2 linked regions of the Homo sapiens genome follow. The protein of the gene in region 2 interacts with the protein of the main gene of each other region in a pairwise test. Each region holds a gene or a part of one and is shown on either strand. Other genes may lie near its edges.

Region 1 (3,813 bases), on a different chromosome or scaffold from region 2:
ATGGAAAGTTATGTCTGGAAATTACAAAAGAAGGAAGTATTACACATCAATAATAGGTTAATACCAAGCCTTTCTCCTGAAATATGGGGTGATCTCCTTTTCAGTCTCCTGTGGAGACTCCAAGTGGCCCTATTCCTGAAGGGAGTTACTTTCCATTACAGCTCTAAGAGTTTCAGCTTGATCTAGAACTAATAAAGTTGGAAGAGAGAGCTTATATTGTTTTACCAATGGGTTCACAAAGTAAAGGGAAGAGGGGAGAGTGTCCCAGCCAGAGAAGAGCATGTGCAAGAGTCCTGTGGCAGAAGGGAGCACAGAGCCCAAGGACAGAGGGAGGTCGGGGGGCTGTGGTGCAGAGTAACGGGTGAGGATGGGCGAGGAGGAGCCTGGGAGGCAGGCTGGGCCAGACTGTGCAGGGTCTCCAGCCATGTTAAGGAAGTCGCTCTTTCAGGATAAATGATGGAAAACGAGCACTAACAGGCCTGAGGGAAAGGCTTTATAATCTAATTCAAGCTGCATACATGGGAAAGAAAACAGCCTTAGCAACAGCTAGGAGGACCCTGCCTTAAATGCTGTCAAAAAGCAGACTCACCAGGGCAGGTCTGGGCAGGCTCCCTTCTGTAAAGGGGCAATCTTTGGTTCTCTAAGGGGCTATTCCATTCCCTCTCAGGGCTACAGTCCCTTCTCCATCCACACAGTCACAACAGCACAGCACAGAGTCCCCAGCAACAGGCCCACCCTGCACAGAATCAATCAGCCCCACTCCTGTGATAGTCGCGCTCTCCCTCTCGGGGCCGGCGGCAGCGATGGGATCTCCCTGCCTGGCTTTCCTTTGTGTTTCTCCCTTCTCCTTTCCCGAAGTCTTCATGAACACCTTGTACTTGGACAGGTGGAACTCTCTTTTAACCTCAGCCTCGGGCCACCCAAACTTTCCATTACCTCCTCATTTTGTCATGAAAAGAACAATCATGGAAATTACATTCCCAGCTGGAAGAAGGAACTGAGGTCCCATCTGTAGCTATTTGGCAAGTGGATCATAGGCCCAGAAGGAAGTAAGTCTATCCAAACTCTCCCCCTCTCTCTTCCTCCAAGATCCTGCCCTGGCCTATGTGGCTCTGGCCCATGATTTAGGACTTCAGGTGTGTGGTTTTTTTACACTTGGTCCGGTTGGTTGCGGACAGGGAGAAAAGAAACTGAATAATGATTGCTGTTTAACCAGGAAAGCTGTGACAAACTCAGCTACAGCTCAGCATGTTTTACCTCCTCCCTTTCACTCCCGCAAACAGCAATGAGCAGATACATTTTTACTGCAAAGAATGACTGTTAAGTAGTTAGGAATTAGAAGATGTGTTTGCCAGAGAGAAGCCTTCATTGTAGAGAATTTACTATAACCAAGTCAGAGTCACTTAGGAAAAGAGCTTTGTCACACAGACGCTAGGAGAGTCTCCACTGACACTGGAATAGGATGTCACCTGTGATGAGTTATCTGACTTAACCCCAGAGCAGCTGTCTGAGTGGCCTGAAGATCCGGACGTTCTGGGGTCATGCCAGGAGACTATCCTACCCCTCTCATGTGTCTGTGCTGTGAGACCCCAAATAAGCGCCATGCATACAGAGTTACTAAATTAAGGATTATTAACAAGGGAGATAAAAAATAAAATATATATGGTTAAAGAGCCAAGGGAGTGTCTGTATGTATAAAAAGTGAATCCAATTTGAAGACACCAGACCTAGGCAAATCCAGAAAACAATCTAATGCCTCAGGAGAATATCATGGATCAAGCTGACATGGAAAGGCTCTCCATGTCATGGAACAGGAATGAAAACATCTTATCTGCTTCTTCTAACTCTAAACATATACAACTGCTGGATAAAATGTAATTTAAAATTTTTTAATATATAGCCTAGGCTGGAAGCTTAGAAAGTAAATCCCAGAAACGAAGAGGAAACCATTCAATAAATGAATGGACCTTTCAGAAGTATTTGGTTTTGGCAAAAAAAAAAAAAAAAAAAAAAAAAAAGAAAACACCAAAAAACAAATGAATGGACTTAAAAGAATAGGTGGGGGCTGGGTGCAGTGGCTCACGCCTGTAATCTCAGCACTTTAGGAGGCTGAGGCAGGCAGATCACCTGAGGTCAGGAGTTCAAGACCAGCCTGGCCAACGTGGTGAAACGCCATCTCTACTAAAAATACAAAAATTAGCTGGGCATGGTGGTGGGCACCTGTAATCCCAGCTACTCAGGAGGCTGAGTCAGGATAATCACTTGAACCCAGGAGGTGGAGGTTGCAGTGAGCTGAGATCCCGCCACTGCACTCCAGCCTGAGTAACAGAGCAAGACTCGGTCTCAAAAAAAAAAGGTAGGAAATGGGCAGGCACTCATGCCAAGGACCCCCGCAATGGGTCAGGCCTTGACTGAGGCCCTACAGGCTTGGAGCAGGGTCTACCAGGAATAGATGCTGAGCCTCAGTCCTGCAGAGGGCTGAACACTGGAATAGGGCTGTCTGCATAAAGCCGAACAGCACAATGAGCTGCTGTGCTACTAAAACCAGAAACAGAAAAACTCCAGCTACTGGTCTAGGAAAGCAGCACGGAAGCTGACCATCTACCATGAATGAGATGAATTACCCATAAAAACTGTAACTCCAGGCCTGAGCAATTGGAATACACTGCTTTTATGGTGAAGACATCTCCATTTGAAAAATTAACAGAAAAACTAGTCCCACGGTGAACCTGGAGATTCTCGACAACGGCAAACATAAAACTGCTCTGCAGGGATGCCCCCACAACCTCCAAGGAAGAGCTAATGAAAAGCTTATAAATTGCATGAAAAACAATTCATGAAGGCATGTCAGCAGGTCCAATACACTGACTGGCTGTGGATCCACCTGAAGGATCCACAATTCAAGAAACAGAAACAGAATAATTTAAAATACTTTAGGCTGGGCGTGGTGGCCCACCCCTGTAATCTCAGCACTTTGGGAAGCTGAGGTGGGTGGATCACCTGAGGTCAGGAGCTCAAGACCAGCCTGGCCAACATGGTGAAACCCCATCTCTACTAAAAAATACAAAAATTAGCTGGGTGTGGTGGCACGTGCCTGTAATACCAGCTACTCAGGAGGCTGAGGCAGGAGAATCACTTGAACCCAGGAGACACAGGATGCCGTGCTGCCTGGACGTGGGGAGACAAAGCTCGGCCTGCTCACCAAGCCACAGTGTGCCCCCACGCTGCGTGTGCCTCCCCAGCTCAGAGAAGAGAGCTTCACATAACTCAGGCCCGAGGTTTCCTTCCACATTCTCATTCTTCACTGGACTTCCTGCCTTACAAGTAGCTTTTCAGTGTGCCTTGTACTCACTGTCAGGAGTTTTACTGTCTGCAACAGGCTCTGCCTTAGAGGACTTAGAGAGTGAGCTCTGAATAAGTAATGATGTGTCATAACTTTGAATATTTAAATGCTGAGCGCCTAGAGCCAGCCCTTGATTCTCTGCCAGCTTCCAATCTAGTGTCTCGGTCAGTGGAAGGGCCTTGGAAGAATGAAAGTGGGGACACACCCTATCTGTCTGGAGACAGGGCCCAATTAGGACAGAGGTGAAAAGAAGCAAATAAAATCACTATTTCAGATGAATTGAAAAAAGGCTTAAGGCTTGCAGTTAAGATGCTGTTGCTCCTGGTAAGCAGCAAAATTTCAACAAAAACATTTGACACCCAGACTTAGCTGAAAAGGGCCTTGGAGACAGAATCAAAGTAGTAATAGTCCCTGTGGCCACCTGTCGCCAGGAGGAAGCTAAACCCAGCAAATGATGATGCCTAGTGCCT
Region 2 (3,813 bases):
CAAGCAGTTGTAGCTTCTCCTGTCTCACTTATTGGTTCCCCTTTATTTATCAGCAGTGCAGACAGTTTTCTCTAGTACCCTGTACTGTTCTGTCATCTTCATCATCATCATGTTATGTTTACCTTCAAAAGCACCCAGAATCCATGCAGCCCCTGGCTTTCCCTGCTGCAGTTCCCCCTGCTTTTTTGTTTTTGTGGTTTTTGAGACAAAGTCTCCTTCTGTTGCCCAGACTAGAGTGCAGTGGCACAGTCTCAGCTCACTGCAACCTCTGCCTCCTGGGTTCAAGTGATTCTCCTGCCTCAGCCTCCCGAGTAGCTGGGATTATAGGCGTGCACCACCACGCCCGGCTAATTTTTGTATTTTTTTAGTAAAGATGGGGTTTCACCATGTTGGCCAGGCTGGTCTCGAACCGCTGGGCTCAAGCAATCCACCCACCTCAGCCTCCCAAAGTGCTGGGATTACAAGCAGGAGCCACCGCGCCTGGCCTGATCCCTCTGCTTCTTGCTTTCTCCCACCACTTCTCTCCTTACCCAAGTGCTGCAGGCCTGCACATGCAGCTCATCCTCGCTCCTCCCCTTAGAGGGAACTCAGGGTCATAAGGATATACTGCTGGGAGTAGACACCCTGCACTCGCTGCTGCTTTCAGCTGCAGGAGATCCTAGCCACAGGCGGTGACTCAGGCAGAGGAGCAAGCCCACCCCGCAGAAATGGGCTCTGGACCCCTGTGACTGCATGGAGCAGGAGGAGGCAGTTAGTGTCCAAGCTAAGGCAGGGTGAAGGCTGTGGAGGTAGCGCAGGCTCCTGTTTGGGTCTGCAGCTAAGATGGGTCTGAATCCTGGAGCCACACCACCTTGAACCTGCAAAGCAAGTCCCAGAATTTTGCAGAAGTTCTTCCTCTTCAGTGTATAGAGTTGGGTGGAGGGAGTATAGAGCCATCATTCAGTCCTTCTCATCTCACCCAGGATCACCTGGGAGTGACCAAAGTAGGCCAAATGTGATTCTAGGGCCAAAGTGAAGGTGTCCGCCATTCCCCGAGTAAGCAACTTCCTGTCTATTGGCTGGTAACTGGGATGGCTTTGGAGACACAGCCTGTCTCAGAAGAGAGGAACAGCTAACCAGGAGTGATAATTCACTCAGTGCCAGTAGCACATACTGTTCTAAATCTGAAGAAGGTAGGGAGGGTTAGAAAGCAAAGGGAAGACAGTGGGGACTAAGAATGAGTGTGGGATGTCATGAGGATTCAGGGGAGAATGCAAGGAGAAGAGACGGCCACAGGGTTTGTGGCTATGCCGCCTGCCGTGGCCCACCTCATCCCCACATCTGAGCCCAGGCAGATGGAAGTCCCCTGCAGAGCAGTGTTCTGTCCTGGAGTTTCCTCCACACCCCTTCTTGGGACCAGGGCTGTTTCCCAAATAGCATCACTGTTCCCGTGCAGGCCAGGTGAGGTGCCTGGGAGCAGGGGTAGGGTGAGGCAGGCATGGCGGTGACCTCTCAGGCAGCTTCGTTGTGGGATTTAGGGCACAGCGGGAAACGTCCAGGGCAGAGGTTGCCTCACCAGTCACATGGTACTATGTAGGCGGTGGTGTTTAATAGATTCTGTTTATCAATAAGTGGATGAAGTGGAGATAGACTTCCTTGTTCAGTCATTGAAACAGGAGAGAGGGTTACTTGACATAATCACTTTGTGTTAAAGCTGTAGTGTATGAAAAGTTCCCAAAAATTCTACAAGACAAGCAACCTAGCAGGAAAATCAGAACAGGTAACAGTAAGACAAATACGAATGGCCTGAAATCCCGACAGGTTTTTCAGTCTAACCAACTCAAAGAAAGCACCTTAAGTTGCAATGCCATTTCACCTGTCAGATGGGTGGGGAGGACTTGGTCCTCCCACCACCAGGGGTGAAAGGGTAGTGTGGGCCAACACTTCTTAATGTGTGATTCTTTTTTTTTTTTTTTGAGACAGAGCCTGGCTCTGTCGCTCAGGCTGGAGTGCAGTGGCACACGATCTCAACTCACTGAAACCTCTGCCTCCCGGGCTCAAGCGATTCTCCTGCCTCAGCCTCCCAAGTAGCTGGAATTACAGGCGTGCACCACCGTGCCTGGCTAATTTTTGTATTTTTAGTAGAGATGGGGTTCCACTGTGTTGGCCAGGCTAGTCACGAACTCCTCAGGTGATCCTCCCGCCTCGGCCTCCCAAAGTGTTGGGATTTCAGGTGTGAGCCACCACACCTGGCCAAGTGTGCATTTCTTTTACCCTGCATTCCCACTTCTAGGAACGTGTCCTGTGTAAGTACTTGCTCAGCATGCTCAGAGATTCCCATGCCAGCTTATTTACTGCAGGACTGCTCATAAGAGCAAAAATAGGAACGTGCCCATCTGTGGGGAACTGGTTATGTAAACTGTGGTAGAGCCATATGGTGGAATACTCTGGAGTCATTGAAAAGGATAAGGCTGGTTTATATATATATTAAATAAGTTCCTGACAAGTTGGGGATCCCATTGTTTAAAATCCTTATGTTTCATAGAAGGCACCGGAAGAGTCTATACCGAAGGACTCAGGGGCTAACTCTGAGGAGCAGGATCATGGTTAAGGAGGCTGTGTCATAAGATCCTGCATACCCTTCTGTGTTTTTCTCAACAAGTCTGCACTACTTCCATAATTTGAAAGGCAACTGTACTTTTTTTAAGGGTAAAATTAACTGTTTAAAAGGGGGGTGAGGATCTGGCAGGTGAGGGGCCCTGGAGACAGAGCCTGATCATGTGTCCAGAGCAGAAGGGCTTGGAGATCACAGAGACCAGGGCAGGCATCCCAGGTCTGTCACTGTGAGCTGTAGCCCTCGCCAGTGCCATCACTTCTCCAAGTCTCATTCTCTTCACCTTTATAGGCTGTGTCCTACCCAGCCTGAGGGCCAGCCAGGTGAGAGTCAGTGGGGGTATGTGACACATCGCAGGTCTCAGCACCTGCTAGTTCTCTGCCCCATCCCCATGAGTTATTACTTTGGCCTCGGGAGTCCCCTGAGGGACCCATAAGGACAGCGCACAGCTTTGAGCCCTGAAACAGCAGGAAGGCTCCACAGTCACCCCTGACCACCCTCCTCAGCAGTTCAGCACTGACTCTCAGTGCAGATATTGAGCTCAACACCTGCCATGCACCTTCTCACCCTCCCCCCAGCCAGGCAGGACAGACCTTCCCATCAACAAGGAAACTGAGGTTACCAGAAACCCACTTGCCAGGGTCCCCTGGGCGTGTAGGAGTAGAGACAGCTAGAGCCAGGATTCACCTCCCATTCCCATTCTCATCCCTCCTGCTTCAGTGACATCCATCCCAATCACCCTTGAGAAAGAGGAAGATAAAGTGTCCTTCCTCCTGGCCTCAGCACCTCCTCACTTGGCAAGCACTTGGTGGGCATCAGGCTGGGCCCAGCACTGTGCCCAGGGCTGGCCATACAGTGGTGGACAAGGCTGAGTGCCTGTCCCAAGGAGCCCACAGTTCAGGCAAACAGGACAGCAGAAGTAAAGAGGCTGCTCAGTAACCCAGCCTCAAATCCCTGCAGAATTTGGCCTGACTTCAGAAGCTGCTGGGTGCTTGTTTGCCTGTGAGCTCTGCCAGCAAAGTAAATAGACCAATCGGGCGCCTCCTGGCTGTCTTCACAGCCATGACAACGGCATTCTCCCAGCATTGGAGGCTAGATATGCAGGAGAGCTCTCAGCCACAAATGATGTGAATAAGGTCAATAGTGTCTATTTGCTGAACTTGTCATCAAAGATGGTGAAACTGATACTTTACTCTCTGGGTGAGAGGGCTAGTGTTTAC

What was found.
Region 1: the proteins of PPARD (region 2) and ITGB5 interact in a two-hybrid assay, tested with the Homo sapiens proteins (one study listed by BioGRID).

Annotation. Positions count from the first base shown.
Region 1 is NC_000003.12:124,842,215-124,846,027, forward strand, and holds part of ITGB5 (integrin beta-5 isoform a precursor), read right to left. Parts: intron 1-3,813.
Region 2 is NC_000006.12:35,411,745-35,415,557, forward strand, and holds part of PPARD (peroxisome proliferator-activated receptor delta), read left to right. Parts: intron 1-3,813. UniProt on the Homo sapiens protein: Ligand-activated transcription factor key mediator of energy metabolism in adipose tissues. Receptor that binds peroxisome proliferators such as hypolipidemic drugs and fatty acids.